Linked DNA regions of Homo sapiens. The protein of the gene in region 1 interacts with the protein of each later gene in a pairwise test. Each region holds a gene or a part of one and is shown in the gene's direction. Other genes may lie near its edges. The genes, in order: FOXP4 and XAGE2.

Region 1 (3,813 bases):
GATGGTGCTTGGCCGCTGGGAAACCTGTATTGGGGCAGAAATGTCACCAGCAGGGGAGCTGGTGCTCAGCTGACTACAGGGCCGCTGGGGTCTTCAGGGTCCCTGATCGGCCACCTCCCTGCTGTCCTCCCAGCTCTTCCCACGAGGAGACCCCCGGCTCCCACCCCCTGTACGGACACGGAGAGTGCAAGTGGCCAGGCTGTGAGACCCTGTGTGAAGACCTGGGCCAGTTTATCAAGTAGGTGTCACCCCCAGCCCCTCCCCCAGCAGCCTTTCCCCACAGGGCCTCTCCCCCAACCCTGCCCACTAGCTTGCCCCTTCTGGGAGCCCTCCTCACTAGCTGTACTACTGTCCTCACTCCAGAGGGTTCTAGTTCTTTCTCTGCCCCCCACGGACTCCCTGATCACCCACTCCCTACCCTGTCTATATTTCTGGGCCTGCATTCCCCTGACTCCATCCCCAGCGCAGGGTGCGGGTAGGAGAAGGAGAGGACAAACATAAGCATTACTCCTCCCCCCACCCTCCCCTGCTCCCCTCCAGCCTCAGCCCCGGGGAGTGATGGCGAGTGACAGGCTGAGGGCCGCAGACAGGCAGGGCGGGAGGTGGACGGGCGGCTGGCAGCAGGCGGCCAGCTGCCACAGCCGTGCCAGGCTCTGTCACTGACTGATTAACTCCGCTGTCTCCCAGACCCTTGCAGCATCAGGGTCAAACAAATTGTTTTCACGCTTCGTCAGAGGTTTACTTAATTAGTTCATTTGCAATTAGATCTCTCTGTAGCTGGGATTTTAGCAAAGACATCAAAGGAGGCTGACGAGAAGGGAGAAGCCTTCCTCCATTGCCCCGTTTTTCCACCTCTTTCTCTTCTTTGTATCTCTTGGTCTGTCTGCTTTTCAGGCCATGGGTGGGATTAGAGGATAGGATGGGAGGATGGTGGCAGCAGGGAAACCGGAGCCAACTTTCTCTCCTCCTCTCTTCCCCTTGAAGACACCTCAACACAGAGCACGCCCTGGATGACCGGAGTACAGCCCAGTGCCGGGTACAGATGCAGGTGGTGCAGCAGCTGGAGATCCAGGTGTGGCCCGGAAGATGCTGGGGAGGGACATGGTGGGCTCCAGCCCCTGCCCACCCACAGCACTGACTTGCTAGGTGGGCTCTGTTGGGAGGGTCTCATGGAAGGGTCCTATGGTCAAAGCCACCATCTTATGCTTTCTAGGTCCTAATGACCATGGTTGTGAGGTGAGGACAGCTGGATTCTGAGGGGTAAACCAAGGTTGGGGGCGTCTCTGCTGGGAGGTCCAGAAGAGACTCACGCTACATAGAAACATCAAAAATAATTATTAGCAGCTAACATATGGAGCACTTACTTTGTGCTGTGCTAAATACTTTATATAGCTCAAGGAATCCTCTCAACAACCTTATGTGGTGGGTACCATTATTCTCCCCATTTTCCAGATGGAGAAAACAGGCACACAGAGCTAAAGTAACTTGCCTGTGAGTGGCAGAGCTGGGATTAGAACCCAGGCAGCCTGGCTTTCCCAAGGGAGTATCCCAGCTACTTGAGAGGGGACACTCAGCAGCACAGGGTTCCCAGGAAGCAACTCAGGGCAGCTCCTCTGTGCTTACCCATCTCCCTCCAGCACCTAGCAGAGCATCCTGCTGTGAGAGGGTGGTCATGAGAGACCCATTGAGTTTATGAATGGGGTGTCTGAGCCATTCATCAGTTCCTGCATCTGCATTCAGTATGCAAGGCCCTCACACACAAGTGCCACTGCACAAGGCACAGTGGCCGCCCCCCCGTGGGTGGGTAGGAAGAAGCCTCCCAACATGTAGAGGCAGGGATAAGCTCCAGCCAGGACGCACTGGGAGGGCTCAAATGGTCACCATCCAGGGGAGAAAGGGAGAGGCTTCATGGAGCTGGCAGCCCTTGAGGGGTAGAGCATTGCTGAGGCCTCCCTGGAGCGGGTCACAGAGGGAGCATGGATGCTGAGGCAAGGAGGCGAATGGGGGTGGGAATCGGCGGCCTTCTGAAGAGCCTGGCGGTGGAGGGGTGGGACAACACTGCCTCCAGGGTTCAGCCTCCCGCTCACCTCCTGCTTTGCCACCCTCCACAGCTCGCCAAGGAGAGCGAGCGGCTGCAGGCCATGATGGCCCACCTGCACATGCGGCCCTCGGAGCCCAAGCCCTTCAGCCAGCCAGTGAGTGCTGCTCCCCTCCCCGCCCCTCCCAGAGCCTTCCACAGACCCTGGAGCCTCGGGACCCCCACCCTCGGGCACTGGTCTCAGTACCCTCCCCGTTGCTCACAGCTGAACCCGGTCCCCGGCTCCTCCTCATTCTCCAAGGTGACCGTCTCTGCAGCAGACTCATTCCCAGATGGTCTCGTGCACCCCCCGACCTCGGCCGCAGCCCCTGTCACCCCTCTACGGCCCCCTGGCCTGGGCTCTGCCTCCCTGCATGGTGGGGGCCCAGCCCGTCGGAGAAGCAGTGACAAGTTCTGCTCCCCCATCTCCTCAGGTGAGGGTGGGCTGGGGGCTGCAGGGCGACAGCAGCGTGAGGCTGTTTTTCCCATCTGAGCCCCATATCTGGCTACCTCATCCTCTGCCTGTCTCCCCAGAGCTGGCCCAGAATCATGAGTTCTACAAGAACGCCGACGTCCGGCCCCCCTTCACCTACGCCTCCCTCATCCGCCAGGTGAGCAGGGCAGGTAGGAGGAGGGTGGGGAATGGCACACAGGCTGCTCCCCCAGCCCCCGCCACACCCCTGCCTCCAGGAAGGTCCTGGGGCCAAGCAATGGAGCTGTCCCGCTCCCTCTCACGTGGCGGTCTTCCCTCTCTGCTGTGCGGGGCTCTCCTGCAGGCTGGGCCCTGTCAGCCTGCTGCATAGGGTTATGTGTCTCTGGGGGTGCACACACTGTTCTTCTTACTGACACCCACCGTGGCATTCATGTGCTCATTTCCACGTACACAGCCCGCCATGATAGACTCAGGGTCACTCTTCGTCTCTCTCCTTTGTCTTTCCTCCCTCAAGCCCATGATCTTCATGTCACCAATGTTCACATAGTATTCACACTCAAGCATGAACTTACATCGACACATATGTCCTCCCTGATACCCACACAGGCATGTACACCTTCACACACATTCTTTCTGTCACACACACACTGTGCTTAGGGTACCTTTTGCCAAAATCAGGATAAATTCCAAACAGCCTCCACCCCGTGGACATCTCTCCCAAGAAAGACAGGACTGACTGCTTTCACCCTCGGTGCAGGGCCAGGTACTAAAGGCATTTTCTCTCCAGAAGCAGCTCCAATCCTTCTTGTACAAATACATAGCCCTTGGAGGCTCCTGCCCTCTTTATCCTTGGCCAAGCTATAACCAGCCTGTCCCTCTGAGGGGACCCACCAGCCACCACCCATCTTGTTATCCACACATTTCTGAGCAGGTCTTCTCACAAAGTGAACTCGGGGCTAGGCAGAAGGGAGAGGTACTGGGGGAGGGAACCCAGGGCTGTGACCCTTCGAGGCCCAGGCTGACGGTCCCTTTGCTTGTTCCTTCCCCGCAGGCCATCCTGGAAACCCCTGACAGGCAGCTGACCCTGAATGAGATCTATAACTGGTTCACCAGGATGTTCGCCTATTTCCGCAGAAACACTGCCACCTGGAAGGTGAAGCAGGCCCCTTCCACCTTCTGGGCCCCAGTCACCCTTGGACCTGCCATATCCCATGGAGACCAAGGCTGCCTAACAATTAGTTCCCTAAACCATTAGTCCTGCAGAAACAGCCACCCAAGGGCCCAGCCAGGGCTGCATGCCCAC
Region 2 (4,313 bases), on another chromosome or scaffold:
GATTACATTACCTCCCACAGGGTCCTTTCCATGACATGTGGGGATTATGGGAACTACAATTCAAGGAGAGATTTGGGTGGGGACAGAGTCAAACCACATCATATGTATGGATATTTCTGAACCATACACTGTCTGAATGACCTACAGGTATATTCAGGGAAATCAGTTACCAGTCCAGAGATTAAAATGTGCAATAATACCACCTAAAAAAGGAAGAGGTGTGAATTTATTTAGTCTACAGAAGTGGTTCTATTCATTGGTAGCATGGCAGAAAACCTCAGACCAGAGAAGGAAGTGATTAATCAAAGTATGAATAAAAATTGGCCAAGGTGGGAGGATCACTCGATCCCAGAAATTGAGACCAGCCTGGACAATGTAGTGAGATTCTGTCTCTAAGTAAATAAATAAATAAAATAGCTGGGCATGGTGGCACACACCTGTAGTCCCAACTACTTCGGAGGCTGCGTCTTGAGTATTGCTTATGCCCAGGAGATCCAGGCTGCAGTGAGGTAAAGTCATGCCATTGCCCTCCATCCAGGGCGACAAAGTAACACCCTGTCTGGAAAAAAAAAGCATGTATAAATATAAACATTAAAATAATTTATTTCTGTCACAAAAGGTCTTTCTGAGACACATCAACCACTAAGGGTGACATGGGACTCTCTGTTCCCAAAGTTTCTGGATGCATGAGAATGGTAGGACAAGAGAGAGAGAAAAAAAAATATCTCTTAAGTCCCTTTCTTTCTACTACAAACATACTGGGGATTCTGGTTTTGGGACAGTGGGAAAACCCTGGCTGGCCTTGCATGTGCCTGACTCAGTGTGAACGCCCCTTACTGCCCAAGTCCCTTGTTGCCCATGCGCCTTACTGTCTGCCTTCTGTCCCAGCAGAGCTGTGCAAAGAGACATCGTGACTTCCTTCTGTCTTGCCGACTAGGAGTCAGCCAGTAGGTCTGCAGTTCAGTAGTCCTAGAAGTTTGAGTGTGAGTGAGTGTGAGGAGGAGCCTGCGGGCACGATCCATGGCCTCCTAGGTGGAAGGGCTTTGAGGTCCCCGTCCTTCTAACACGCAGCGATGCAGCCATGGCCTTGCTGTGGTGGGGGTGCCGGACAAGGGAGGGAGAAGGACCATAGATGGGAGGAGGGTCAGGTAAACAAGCAGTGAGTTTTGAAGGGGGAAACTATTTGTGGTATTTGAGTCCGCGAGGCATATGAAACTGCTTACAGACGATGCATTCCAGAGTCCTCAGTGGGAACCAGGGAGGGGAGGGAGGACTGCATGACGCGGGATGGGGTGGGGCGAGGCGGGGCACTGCAGCACACAACGCAGGCACCGACTTCAGTGTGCATGTTCCTTGGACACCTGCCTCAGTGTGCATGTTCACTGGGCATCTTCCCTTCGACCCCTTTGCCCACGTGGTGACCGCTGGGGAGCTGTGAGAGTGTGAGGGGCACGTTCCAGCCGTCTGGACTCTTTCTCTCCTACTGAGACGCAGCCTATAGGTCCGCAGGCCAGTCCTCCCAGGAACTGAAATGTGAGTGAATGTGAGGAGGAGTGAGCGGGCTTCCAGAGGGTCAGGCGGCGTGGTCTGTGGCCTCAGAGAGTAAAAAGCTTCCAGGTCATAAGGAAGGTGGGCCGCGGAGTGAAGGGGAGCCAGATGAAGATAGGGTGAATGCTCGGGGTGCTGTTGGAGGTATCTGAGTCCCGAAAGTGCCTGGAACTCCCAATGGGACAGATTCCAGACTTCTTGGTAGGGACCCAGGAATGGGCTGTGTAAGCGGTAAGAAAGGGGCCTGGGAAGTGGGAATGCTATGAGCTGGTGACCGCGACCCCGAGGTCTGTAGAGCTCCGGGTAGAAATGTCCAGCGAGGAGCGTCCAGTGATGTGTCACAACTTCTCAACTCCACCCTGGAGGTTCGAATGGGCGGGACTGTGCTTTCCAACAAAACCTTGATTTTAGGGAGGGAAATCGTCCAAACAAATGGGTGTGTGACGAAAGCCGTGGTCACTGCAGTTTTAATTCTCTAGCTGTATAAACTTAAATGTCTCCACTATGGAGAATCCAACTGTGAAACCAAATCTCATCAGAAATATCCTGTATCTTTTGCCAGGAGCATTAAGACATTGCTCTGCTAGATTGCCCAACTTAAGTGGCTATGCAAGCATTCGATTCAGAAGATGTACACACTTCTAGTTGCCCTGGGACTTACTTTCAAATTATTTCCAAACTTTTTTAAAAACTGAAATTTAACATTTGGCCATGAAAGTGGTCAAATACAGCTATCCTCTCAAACACACTTTCCCAATCACAGTATTCTGTTTGCAGAGTGAAATATGAGTTGGCGAGGAAGATCAACATATAGGCCTAGGCCAAGAAGAAGTTTACAGCCTCCTGAGCTGATTGGGGCTATGCTTGTGAGTGCTTTAATATTTTGATGTTTTTTATTAGCAGAAATTTCTTTTGTGATAGTGTTGTTGAACTAGTATAGATACACTGATAAAGGTCTTCCATGTTGATAAAAATGATCATGCATCTCATGAAGGAAAGACTAATCCAAGAGTATTACAATCTGATTTTGCCTTCATGGATAATCTTGTGTTCCCCATCATGACTTCCTCCTCATGCTTACTGATAACAGATTGCACACATCCAACCCAACATAGATTAAAATGGTTTCCAAAGCCTTTGAGGGTAACTGTCTTAGAGTAACCTCTCTTTGGGAAGAGTAACTTTGTGAAGAATAAGTATGTGGAACAGTGTTGGAGAAGTGTCTTTAGACTTACTTGTGATTAGAAATACCTGTGTATTCTGTATATTTGTATTATTGACATGTATTACTAACAAAACTTTTTATCTGCACACATACTGCCTCCCCTTTGTCCCAGGAACCCACTGATGAAGAGCCTAAAGAAGAGAAACCACCCACTAAAAGTCGGAATCCTACACCTGATCAGAAGAGAGAAGATGATCAGGGTGCAGCTGAGATTCAAGGTGCTGGGAAAGGAAAGAAATAATGCCTATAGGGGGAAGGAGGCCTATGTGTCCATCATGCCTTATGCCATGACCAGTAATAGGAGGAAAGAAAACATTAGGAAAGGATCTCAAGCACTTGCTCAAAGTAGGCTGGAAAAGTGAAGAGTATAGTTTGCAGCTTCATGCAGTCCCTGGATATAATAAATCTTCTCTTTTTTTCAAGATTTATTTTGTATGCTTGAAAATACATCCCTTGCTAAATCAGATGAAACTGTTTAATTTGATGTATCAAAATGTACATTATTTCACTTGATTAATTTGATCTTCTTAGAATGTTGCTGTATGATTGGCTCAGCCATGGTGTCCACAGTGTTATAAGCACCCTTTTATAGCATATAGAGTGCCAAGTCACCCTACCTTATAACACCCTGAATAAAGCCCATTTGCATAGGGATATTAGCCCTATTTTATAAAAAGGAAATGGTTGCTCAGAGATAGAGGCTTACCAAGAACGCTTGAGTCATGGAGGCAGAATTCATATTACGTTCCAAGGTCTGTGTTCTTCCTAACATCTACGTTATTAGAAAACGTGAATTATTTTGCTTAAAACGCTTAATACTCGAATGTGTCTGTACTGTAAGGTACTTGAGTATTGGCTCAGGAGAAAACAAATTCAGTGAAGCAGGATAGCAAATCCGGAAAAGGGCTCAATGAATGACAGCCACTGTTCCCTTTGATCAGTATTTTTTGACAGTATGTTTGGTAAAAGGTGGATAGTTCAGGACACTGGCATACAGGTAGGTATATTAGTATGCTTTTTAAGGAACTTTTAAAAGTTGCCTAAATACTTTTATAATTAGAAAACTCAAAGTATGATACAATTATCATGAAACAGAAATTGTGTCCTCAACAGATAGCATTTTCAAGCTAAAGTTGACGGAATTTGGACCATGGATTATTTTAGCAGTTCACGGTTAAGAGGTTTCCAGAATATGACTGTCAACAACACTCATTACTTTCTTTCACTCAATTTCCTGAATTCTCATGGGAAAACTGTGACTTTTTTTCCTCTTATTTTTGGTACTATATTCTCAATAGGATTTATTTATGAAAAGTTACATTTAGGGCCTTTGGACCTAAGCATAATTTTAATTAATTTTAACCAAATAATTTTCAAATTACCTCAGCAAGATATGGTTGTCACAATTGTAAGTTTTTGTCATAAGCCCAGGAATACATTGATCTAGTCTTTCAGAAAATTATCTTTGAGTTATTATTAAAATGCTATTCATGCAGCAAACTTCAGATATCTTACATAGTTGATACTCACTGTTTATAAT

What was found.
Region 2: the proteins of FOXP4 (region 1) and XAGE2 interact in a two-hybrid assay, tested with the Homo sapiens proteins (one large-scale study listed by BioGRID).

What each region holds. Positions count from the first base shown.
Region 1 is NC_000006.12:41,587,660-41,591,472, forward strand, and holds part of FOXP4 (forkhead box protein P4), read left to right. Parts: intron 1-133; coding exon 134-238; intron 239-984; coding exon 985-1,072; intron 1,073-1,213; exon of another isoform or gene 1,214-1,236; intron 1,237-2,111; coding exon 2,112-2,195; intron 2,196-2,303; coding exon 2,304-2,511; intron 2,512-2,611; coding exon 2,612-2,688; intron 2,689-3,561; coding exon 3,562-3,663; intron 3,664-3,813. UniProt on the Homo sapiens protein: Transcriptional repressor that represses lung-specific expression.
Region 2 is NC_000023.11:52,367,682-52,371,994, forward strand, and holds the start of XAGE2 (X antigen family member 2), read left to right. Parts: upstream 1-1,339; 5' UTR 1,340-1,533; intron 1,534-2,311; exon of another isoform or gene 2,312-2,325; 5' UTR 2,326-2,333; coding exon 2,334-2,414; intron 2,415-2,885; coding exon 2,886-2,991; intron 2,992-4,313.